2 linked regions of the Homo sapiens genome follow. The protein of the gene in region 1 purifies or fractionates together with the protein of each later gene. This does not show direct contact. Each region holds a gene or a part of one and is shown on either strand. Other genes may lie near its edges.

Region 1 (7,301 bases):
AAACTTGCACCTCTCTAATTTTTTCTCCCTCACCTCTGCAGAAGGCAGAGTACAGCTTCCGTGACAGCTCCAAACAATTAAACTTCCGGCAAACTTATTGAAGCCAGTGCTAACACAGAATTTTCCTTGCACTCCTTCCCGCCCCCAATCATTAATCTCATGTCTCTTAGAAATTGGTGTTTTCCCTACGTATGGGTTGCAATTTACTTGCATTAATGCCTGGGATTTGATAAGGATATGTAACTCCTTTTATTAGTCGTCTTTATTTTAAAATTAAACCAATGGATCAGTCAGATTGAATATTTTATTAACTATTAAATTATTCACGGTATGGGTTGCTCTAAAAAATTCAATAACATGCATACAGTTGCAGCAAGCACGTGACATCTTATGCAATCTGTCCCTGTGCCTGCAGTTTGTGCCTGAAGTCTTTAAGCAAATGGCACTGTCTAAAAATGTCTAGACATGTCCTAAATACTATGAATCATTGGCATTTGCATTTTCTTTTTTTAATCAATGGCGATTTTTAGTTAATTTTACATGAGAATAAATTAATACCTGAACAGTCTCACTCCAGATAACAACACTAACCTTTTATGATTAGTATAGTTACATTTATACAGAAATAAGGAGTTTCTTTTATCTTATTATATTATTATTACACATTGATGTCTTCGTTGCCTAATTTACCTGACCATTAAATTTTATACCTTAAAAATAAATGCTAACTTCAGAGTCAAGGTAAAACATACAAAAATAATTCTGAAATATCAAATTAAAATAAGAATTAAGTGAAAATGAAGTATTCTCATGTGAAAGTTTGACAGTATTGCAATATTTTGGCCACTGTGGTGATACAACACACAATTTTTTCCTCTGGTTCTGAAAATGTTTTTCTGATTTTTCCTGAAATGTTTCCTTAGAATTAAAATGTATTTGTTTTAAATGTATATGGTTTTGGGAAAAGACTTAAAATAATTTTTAAAAATCAGGAAAAAATTGAGATGGTCTATTTTTCCTTCTTTGATCTTGAAGTTGCAAAAATCTTCAAAAGTAGGCAAATGTATTTCTGAATACTTTTCTAAATTAAAACTATGTCATAATTTTCTCAAATATATTGACATCAATGTTCATATAAATCATGTATTCAAAATCTAGGGTATTTTAAATAAATATTTAATAAAGTTTGCTTTTCTCTCTAGATACATGTGATTTTTTTCTTCTAATAAAATTATAGCAATGTAAAGGGAAGGAATAAGATATACATGACTAAAATAAAGTAGCATGGTCACTCGATACCATTAAAAGTAAAAGCTTGACAGTTTTTAGAGTTAAATTAGTAGTACCAGCTGTTAATTTTATTAATTTCAAGATAAAGTTTTAATTAGCTAAAACTTTTCATTTTTGAAGGATTTTGCATAATGGGATGAACTGTATATATTATCATTTAGTGTATAATTTTTTAAAAGTTGCCTCCTTTGAGAGTTTCTTGAAGCCTAAAAAAGTAATTCTGATATTTGTTGTTTACTGCACACACTTGCAGGTGCAATAGCTTTGAGTAAGATTAGGATGTAATAGGTTCATTGTATCTCTTCCAAAGAAACAGTGCAGGCTTCAGAACTCAGTTCAAGTCAGAAGTAAATCATAACATTTGGATACTGAGTAAAAAATAGCAAATTTTGCAAATATGTGTTGAGTGTTAATGGCTTCTGTCATAGTTAATCATTTACTTTTTATTTGCTAAGTAGGTTGAAAATTAACATTATTATTTTAAAAAGCAGAAAACCAAAGCTAAGCCATTCCTATTATTCAGTTCTTCTCTGTGTTTTAAGGAAGACGCTTAGCATCTTCCTTAGATGTTCTATAGTTATAGACTATATAAATATTCTTCTAAAATGATTTTTTTATTTTTATCATAGTCCATGTAATGATTATAATGTTGTTTGCTTAATCAAAGCAAACATGTATTTATAGACAGAGTCAAATGACTGCCAATGTGAAGTAATTATTAAAATATTTCTCATGGTTTCCTATGTGATACAGCAAGAATTTAAGTACTATAAATACTTAAACTGAATGTATTACCACTTGTCACTGAAAATACCCCTAAAAATCTTTGATTTGAGCAAGTTGTTGAAGGGAAAAGTAGACTAGAATCAACTGTGCCCTCACCAGCAGATGTCAGGATAATCAACGAAGATCTTTTAAAGGAAAAAATAAAATAAAAGGAAAAATAAAAGAAGTCAAGTCATAAATGTGAATCTGCAGATCCACATAAAGTAACTTTCTACTCTTTACGAAACTAATGTTATTAGTTAGTTTTCATTGCTTCCCTGAGGAAGAAAAAAAGAGGGCATTGTAAGGTAGAATCCTTCTACCATAGGATTTTAACTTGGAAACACAGACATTCAAGTGCACACTTAGGTTGAACTATTACTTTAGAGGGAGTCTTCTAAGTACCTTCCAAGGAAAAACACAGAGAGCTATGAGGTGTTTGTAGTAAAACAATTATTAATGAAATTTATACCACGATTTCTAAGCTTATTCTTCATATGAACTATAAGTTTCATAAATAGCAGTTCTGTTATATTGATTTACACAGACATACACACTCAACTATTCCTATGCATCTACTGCACTGGAAAGAGATGAATGCTTTTATTTACTCTTTTTGTCATTATGGTAAAGTGTATGTTTTTTAGATCTTGCAAGATTCTACATAAAACAAGTCATGTGGCCAAAAGAGACAAATGTCATGATAAATAAAGCTTTGTTATATCCCATTTAAGCCAGTTATTAATTTCTATATATGTGACTCCTCTGCATCAATTGATGTCAGGGACTTGAACTAATTTATTTTGATTGCAATTGACCTTTAACTGATAACTTGTAGTTCCAGCATCTGCTGATGTAGCCCTCAAAACTATGTTACAGATTCACCATTATACCCTTTTAAGGAGCTTTTTTATACAGTCACTGACATTGTGCCAAATAGTCGGTTTCCAGTGGCATTCTTTCTGTGTCAGAGTTCTCCTAGGATAAAAATTTCTCTCTCCTTCATTCCGTCTCTTTCTCCTCCTCTCCCCTCCTCCCTCATTTCCTTGTTATATGGCAAATAGGACACAACATCTACTGTAAAATTGATAGTGATATTTTGTCATCATTATTAAAAGATTGCAAACCTTTGAAACGTTGTGAAACTTGTAACTTATCTTTTTGTGAGGAAAGAAAAGGAAGATGATAATGTCAAACCTCTGCCTACCAAACCTGAAGTTTAAAACATAAGTGGAAATAAATTGGGATCTAAATCATGGAGCAACTCAGGATTTTACACCTTGATTTGATCACACTGTCCTGCCTAAAGCTATCAAGTATACAGTAATTTATATCCACTTCACTTGTGGAGAAGCCACTTGCCTTGAAGCTTCATCCACATACCACATAGCTGAGAACCTAGGATAAAGAATCAGAAACTTCTGACCACAAAAATAGATGTCATAGTTAGGTCTTAGATCATGTATCATAGAAAAGCTTATTTCTCTTGGCTTTCAAGTTTCTGGGTCCTCTATAAACTGAATCCAGAAAGTGAAAAGCATATGAAGTAATAGGTCAGGCTTAATCAGAGCAGTAAAACATGCCAACTTTTAGACAAAGAGGAGACTCGAATAGTATATGTAAAAGCAGTGATACTTTGCAGTACAAAAAACTGGGTACATGCAGTTGGGAGGGTTTGGGGTGGGGAGTGGTAAGTGTATCACCATATAAGAGAATGCAATAACTGGTGATAATGCTGGTTTTGCGACCTAGAGAAAGCCTCACTGCAAGATGTTCAACATTTTTTGGGTGCAAATGCAGTGAAATGTATACATTATTTAAAAAAAGACTTGGTCAAAAATGTTTAAGCTTGAAAACCTGCTTAATGGTGAAATAGCTAGATATCTGAACAATGTACTTATTTAAGACTTTTCCCGTTGTGTCAAATAAAATGTTGGTATTTTAAAATTATTTTTCTTCTAAGGTAATAAAGTTTTAGAAGACACAAAACTGAATTTTGTAAAAAAGAAGTAGACCTTACAATGTAGATAAAATGTCCTGCAATTATTTGGTTATATTTTAGAAAATGTGCTGCTATTTTGTTTTAAAATATGCATTATTATAGTGATAGTAACTGTGTAGGAATTGTTCAGATTTATAGTGTGTGACTTAGAATGGAGGATTTAAGTACAAGAATTTAGGTGACGGCTTTTTAAGCACTAAAGCACTTTTGAATGTGGTTGTTACTATGGAGAAAGAAGATTGACTTAGCTTTGCCTTTTATCTTTTCCAAAACAGGTTTGTATCAAAATGATTGATCTCTTAAAATAATTTAATATGATATAATATTTCATAAATGGGAAGACCAAGGTTTTAATCTCTTGTTAGATGATATATGCTTGATTTGAAGATGATAATCTCTAAATGGGGTTAGGCCACCATGCATTCCTTAAGGTTTGTGCTTGGTATTTAACAAAGTGGTATATTTTGGGAATGCAAAATAATCCTTTAAATCCCCTCTTGTATTTTAGGTCAGGGGAACCATTTAGATTTTACTGATTCTGGGGATTATTTGAGGTCAGCCAGGATGAAATGGGCTCATGACACAATCAGGAAAGTCCAAAACAATTGAGTGGAAACATTGGAGAATATTTTTTATTTGAAATAAATGGACAGATCCCTCTCTGTAATGTAGAGCAGTCTCCCACCTACAGGCCTGAGCCTTAGGTCTGTGCTCACATCTCTGCTTCACTCTTTTTTTTTTTTTTTTTTTGAGACGGAGTCTCGCTACCCAGGCTGCAGTGCAGTGGCGCGATCTCAACTCACTGCAAGCTCCGCCTCCCGGGTTCACACCATTCTCCTGCCTCAGCCTCCTGAATAGCTGGGACTACAGGCTCGGCTAATTTTTCTGTATTTTTAGTAGAGACGGGGTTTCACCGTGTTAGCCAGGGTGGTCTCAATCTCCTGACCTCGTGATCCACCCGCCTTGGCCTCCCAAAGTGCTGGGATTACAGGCGTGAGCCACCGCGCCCGGCCTCTGCTGCACTCTTTATCACATTTTCTTTCCAAATACTATATGAACTTTAATTTTAACTATGCTATTTTTTCTGTTTATTTATCTTTCTATAGTTTAACTTCTGTATTATAAACGCTAACTTTTCTGGAATGTTGTTTACAGACAAACAAAAACCAAATTACCATTCGCAGTGCTTTAATGTTTATATACCAAGTTCTTGTTTCATGTTTTGTGCTTTCTACTGAGCTAGGGCTTAGAATAGTACCAGGCAAAACAAACAAGAAGACCCAAACAGACACTTAATATATACTGAATTGAATGTAGCTACCCACCCCCATCAGTTTGCCTGTAAACGTACTTGCACATTTTAAACAGCAGTGTGTCTCTTATATATAAAAATAGGTCAAAGTAGTTTCAGGAACTTTAAAAGCTGTGTTTTTCACTTTCTTACATAACTATTCCTTATAATGTGTGTTGTAGAATGAGCCTACTTTGAAAATATTTCTCAACACTCCTGCAAGAGCACTGTTGATAATATAATATTCAAGTGCAGGCAGGATATAAAGTACTTAACTGTGTTTGTTATGAACCTTCAATTAAAAGAAAAGCTGCTTCTAAGTGATTTTTCCCTTTTTTAGGTGCAAGGTTCTGACATTTCTGACTAAATTTGATTTTGGCCTAGAAACAGTAATTTTTCAGGCATCATTTTGTGTTTTTATTTTTTTTGCTTTCTTTTCATTACTTAGGGACCACCATCATGTCAGCATTAAGAGTCTTAGATAAGTTAACAAGGTACATTCTTTCTAATATCTTTCAAGTCTAACATGTATTGACTGCATACTATGTGTTCCACTGTTCTAATTATCATCTTTAATTCTCAAAACTATTGAGGCAGGTGCTATTATTATTGAAATATAAATGAGAAAATGGAGATATAGAGATCATAGAGCTACTAAGTAGCATGTTAAAATTAGGATCTAGAGCTTGTCCTCTTAACTATTAGGCGATGCTCTGTCTCAGTGAGTGACACATCTTGTATATCATGGAGATATTTTGTTAAATGATTTTATTATTTGTAAAACACACATTATGTCTAACCATTATTTCACTAGTAATTATTTTAGAAGGATTAAATTATACTTATTCTCTTGGGACAATAATTTAAAAATTTCAAATTTAGGTTGGTAAAGTGTAAAGTTCTTTTTTCACATTCAGAAATAAAAGAGTATGCTCATTCATTTGGTCAGAAAGTGTTAATGTGTTAGAATGCATCACTGGTAAGAAGATGAGCACTTGGGAAGTGGTTTGAAATACATTTTCTTTAAATCTTGCCATTTAGTTTGATTTCAGCACAATTTTTTGATTTATTTTAATTTTCTAGGATTTCATTGCTCCTCTACATTGTTTCATTGCTATTCAATGTGATGTGTAGAAGCATGCTTTCTCTGTAATTTTCAGATACATCAGGTAGTACAAAGTGACTTTAGAGGTTAACAAGGTTTTTATTTCTCCTAGTGTAATGAAGATATTTAATTTGCCTTACATCTCATCCTCATTTAATTTTATTTCCACATAACCCCATTAAGAAGTTTTAGCCAAACAAAAGCACCAAATAATCTCAAACCACATCAATTAGAATATTTTTTTTTCTGGTTTATGTGAAGAATTATTCAACCAAAATATGGTTTATTTTTTTAAAAAAACTTCAAACTGCAATCATTTTAAGTATTTTACAAAACAATGAGAATTATGCTGTATTATTCCATTTTCACACTGCTATAAAGAAATACTCGAAGGCTGGGCGCAGTGGCACATGCCTGTAATCCCAGCACTTTGGGAGACTGAAGTGGGCGGGTCACGAGGTCAAGAGATCGAGACCATCCTGGCCAACATGATGAAACCCTTTCTCTACTAAAAATACAAAAAATAGCTGGGCGTGGTGGTGTGTGCCTGTAGTCCCAGCTACTCAGGAGGCTGAGGCAGCAGAATTGCTTGAACCTGGGAGGCAGAAGTTGCAGTGAGCCGAGATCATGCCATTGCACTTCAGCTTGGTGACAGAGAGAGACTCCGTCTGAAAAAAAGAAAAAAAAAAAAAAGAAATACCCGAGACTGGGTAATTTATAAAGGAAGGAGGTTTAATTTAATTGACTCACAGTTCCACATGGCTGGAGAGGCCTCAGGAATTTACAATCATGGTGGAAGCCGAAGGGGAAGCAAGGACCTTCTTCACGTGGCAGCAAGAGAGGGAATA
Region 2 (4,254 bases), on another chromosome or scaffold:
ATCTCACAGGAGAAGAGTGACTTGGACAAGATCTCCACAGGCTTCAAAGCTGGCCTTCTCTTTCCTTTGTGCCACAGTATGATTTAGGACTGATAGGGACCCTCCCACCAATGGCCTCATCTTTTTTTATTTGTTTCTTCTTCTAGCTGAGGCAAGAGTTGGGGAGATAGAGAAAAGAGAAAAACGACTAAGGTTGGCTTAAAGCTGTGGTGTGACCAGGAGTACAATCTACTCCCAGCGTATGAAACAGTTATTTCTTCTTCTTTCTTTTGGGGAGGGGCCAGATCAGGTGACCAGAACTATCTAAAGCCTGCAGGTCTTAGAAAACATGTTTTGGCTGTGCTTCACATTTTACTTTTTGTTTTTTGAGATGAAGTCTTGCTCTGTCACCCAGGCTGGAGTGCAGTGGCGCTCCACCGTTCATAGCAACCTCCACCGTTCACAGCAACCTCTGTCTCCTGGGTTCAAGGGATCTTCCCCCACCTCAGCCCCCAAAATAGCTACAGGCATGTGCCACCATGGCAGGCTAATTGTTCTATTTTTTTCTTAGAGATGGGGTCTCACTATATTGCTCAGGCTGGTCTCAAACTCCTGACCTCAAGCAATCCTTCTGCCTCGGCCTCCCAAAGTGCTGGGATTACAGGAATGAGCTGCCACGCCCAGCCACATTTTACTTTTTAAATGAAAATGAAAAGCCTAACAGGAATATTGACTCAGCAAGTTTTTATTATGCACCTGTGGGTTTGTGACGATGCCAAGGGATCAGAGGAACAAAGAGAGAGGATGTTGCTCAGATGGGGGTCTCAACCTCCAGAGCAAGGTGGACACAAAGCTCCAGCCAGCTGCCCAGCCCCTGGGGTGGGAGGGAAGGATCGAGGGGTAGCTGTTGTCAGATAAGGCCAAAGGTATCAGTGGCCAAAAGGGAGACAAAGATCTCCTGGGTGCAGCCTCCTCCACCACTGTGGTGAAGGGTGTTGGGCTGGAGGGTTGGCCGACCTCTCCTGAGAGCACGTTCCCCCTGCTGCTCCTGCTGCATGGCATCAACCTGGGTTTCAGTTACATTACCCAGGAGGATTTCCAAATCCAGAGGCAATGTGGCCTTCCATTTCCTGAGGTGCCTTGGTTGGCTCTGGATCAGTGGTGGGGACTCAAGAGACAGCCTCCCTGTGGCTTCCAGCCCCTCACATTCCCTTTGTCGCTTTCTCCTTCATGATGTGGTTTTACACAGAAAAACACTCTGGTAAGTAGAACAGTGTTCTTCTCTTGAGTCAGACGTCTGAAGCAGGAAGGTGAATAACCTTCCCAAGACCTTAGAGCTACAGAGAGAATCCTCAGCACAGGTAGGAGCACACAGGTAGGTGGGGTAAACGTGTACAGAGAGCCTGGCTTCTACTTGGAATTTTCCCCTCCCTTGGCCTTAAAAATCGGATTTCTCCCTTTTCCAGCTATGTTGATACAAGAGACAAACTATTTAGAAAGTAAAAGCCTCAACCGTTTATTTTGTGTTCAAAGTATAACCAAATGATTTTATTGCATTTACTGCTCCTGGGCATGCAGATGCATCTACACAGAAACAGCAGTTGTGGTTATAAAATCTTTTAACGAGTTTGGGGCAGAGGCTTTTTAATTATTTTTGAGACAGAGTCTCATTCTGTCACCTAGCTTGTGCAGTGGCATGATCTCGGCTTACTGCAACTTCTGCCTCCCAGACTCAAGCAATCCTCCCACCTCAGCCTCCAGAGTAGCTGGGACCGCAAACGTCAACACCACACCCAGCTAATTTTTTGCATTTTTGGTACAGACGGGGTTTTGCCATGTGGCCCAGGCTGGTGTCACTGAGCTAGGCAATCCACCCACCTTGGTTTCCCAAAGTGCTAGGATTACAGGTGTGAGCCACTGCACCCAGCCCAGAGTTTTCCTGATGTGAAAATTACGTGAGTGACAAGGAGCACCAGGAGCCTTGCCTGACTTACTGTCTGTTGGTAGGATGTGACATATGAATAATACAAAATACCCGTCTGGTTTGACTTGCAGATTAAATCACTGCTAGACTACAGCCTTGATGCCCTCTCTTGCTGACCCTAGCCAACATAACCAGTCTTCCAGGAACAATACCATGTTTTAAATTGCTTGAGGTTTCACTACCTGCTGTCACTCTCAGTCCGGAATCCCAGCAGGAGACACAGCTCCAGCTGGCCTGCCCAGCCCCCATCAGAAGGCAGGGAGGAAGGGGAATTTGTCAGCGTTTACGGCTATTGAGTATGATTCTTCCATGCAGAGGACACCTGCCCTAAATGCTGAAACTTGGGTCTGAACCCTGCCTTTGATGGAATTGTGAGCAAGCTCACTCAAGTTTGTATTGACTCATCTGTAAATTAGGAATGATATAGCATACCTCACGTTTATCTGGAGTCATGGGCTGAATGCTGTCCCTTTCAAATTCCGATGTTGAAGTCCCAACCTCTAGTACCTCAGAATGTGACCTTATTGGTAAACGGTTGCTGCGGATACAGATGAGGTTATACTGGAGTCGGTGGGATGGGCTCTAATCCGATATGACTGGTGTCCTTAAACAAAGGGAGGTTTGGAGACAGACACGCACACAGCAAGAGTGCCATGTGGAGATGAAGGCAGAGACTGGGTGACGCTTCCACACACCAAGGAATGGCAACTGCCAGCAAAGGCATGAAGCCGCTTCTCCCTCACAGCTCTCGGAAGGCACCAACTCTGAGGACACCCTGATCTTGGACGTGCACCTCCCAGAACTGTCAGGGAATACACTCCTGTTGTTCTAAGCCAGCCAGTGTTTGGACACACCAGCACTCCAAGCTAATGTATCTATCAAGTGTGTTGTCAGGCAAGGTTCTGTTCTGGAGCTTGGCTCACCCAGACAGGAGAACCCCTCACTGGGGGCAGAGCTCCACATTCCTAGACAGGACAGATTGGAAGAAGGGACTTAAGTGCCTTTTAAACGATGACAACTCCGCTTCCAACCCACAAGCATTTACCAAGGATCTTTGGGGTATAAAGACATTATGGGGTAGGTGTGCAACACAAATTAAAATGTAAGCTTTGTTTTTGGTGAGCTCCAGATCCCTAGTGATTGGCCCCCAGGAAAATCAACAGGTATGACGACTGTTTCCAAACCTCAAGAAGGAGCTCTGCAGACCCCTGCCACAGAGGCCAGCCCAAAAGGGCTGCCTGATCATCTTGGATCTGCGGGGTGCTCCTGCCTACCTGATGGCCACGAATCTGGGGCTCAGACATGACATGTCTGGCTCAGTGTGCCTGGCCCTGCTCCCCACTGAGCCCATCAGTCCCACCCTGCCTTCTTCTTTCCTCTAGTCCAACATCCGCCAGCAGCTTCTCAGTGGAAGTGCAGGCATCCTGGAGCTTCAGGAGCAGATCCTAGCGTTCAGACAGGGAAGGAGGGGAGGGAGTATACTGAGGTTTGGCTGGTGACCAGGGTGCCGCCCTGACGGGGGATAGCCCAGTTTTACTCCCCGAGCTTGGGGAGCATGGGCCAAGGGTCTCTAAGACGCAGAACACCTGGCATGTCCAACCTGGTGATGGCACATCCCCCCCGTTTTTTGGCACAGCAGAAACAGAACACTCACTTGGCCACTCTTTCATTACCTGGGGGAGGGAGAGTGCTCCCATGGCACCACCCGAACGCTCACTACCTGAGAGCAAGGACAGGAGGGAGGTGTGCTCTCTATCCTGGGGAAGGTATGTCCTGGGTGGGGGCGCTGATCAGTACCAAGGTGAGGGGGCAGCACCAGCCAGGGTGAGGCCGCCCCAGGCGGAGAGGCTCAGTAGGAGTTCAGAGCCTGCTTGGAACGGCGCTTCATGTGCAGGCGCTCGTGGCGGAGGAGGTCATAGTTCTGCGTGAAGCTCTTGACGCAGTACCGGCACTGGAAGGGCCGGGCTTTGTCCTTCAGGTGAAAGTGGCTGCGGTGCCGAGCCAGGTGGTCGTGCCGCTGGAAGGCCTTCCCACACTCACAGCACTGGAAGCTCAGTTTGGCCTTGCCGTTTTCCAGCGGCTCTTTGGGACCCTTGTCCGCGTCCTCGGATGCCGCCTGCTCTCTCTTCTCCACCGGCTGGAGTCTGTCCGGCTGCAGGTGTATCCGCCGGTGGGAGAGCAGGTGGGAGTTCAGGCGGAAGCTCTTCCCGCAGGCACCACACCGGTAAGGCTTCTGGGCCTCGTGGCTCTCTAGGTGCCCATCCAGGTCCTCGCTGTCGCTGAACAGCTCC

Evidence for each region.
Region 2: the proteins of EDIL3 (region 1) and ZNF496 purify together in Homo sapiens (co-immunoprecipitation; 3 studies listed by BioGRID and IntAct, with this or other methods). This does not show direct contact.

The regions. Positions count from the first base shown.
Region 1 is NC_000005.10:84,374,814-84,382,114, reverse strand, and holds part of EDIL3 (EGF-like repeat and discoidin I-like domain-containing protein 3 isoform 1 precursor), read left to right. Parts: intron 1-7,301. UniProt on the Homo sapiens protein: Promotes adhesion of endothelial cells through interaction with the alpha-v/beta-3 integrin receptor. Inhibits formation of vascular-like structures. May be involved in regulation of vascular morphogenesis of remodeling in embryonic development.
Region 2 is NC_000001.11:247,296,707-247,300,960, forward strand, and holds the end of ZNF496 (zinc finger protein 496), read right to left. Parts: coding exon 3,813-4,254; 3' UTR 709-3,812; downstream 1-708. UniProt on the Homo sapiens protein: DNA-binding transcription factor that can both act as an activator and a repressor.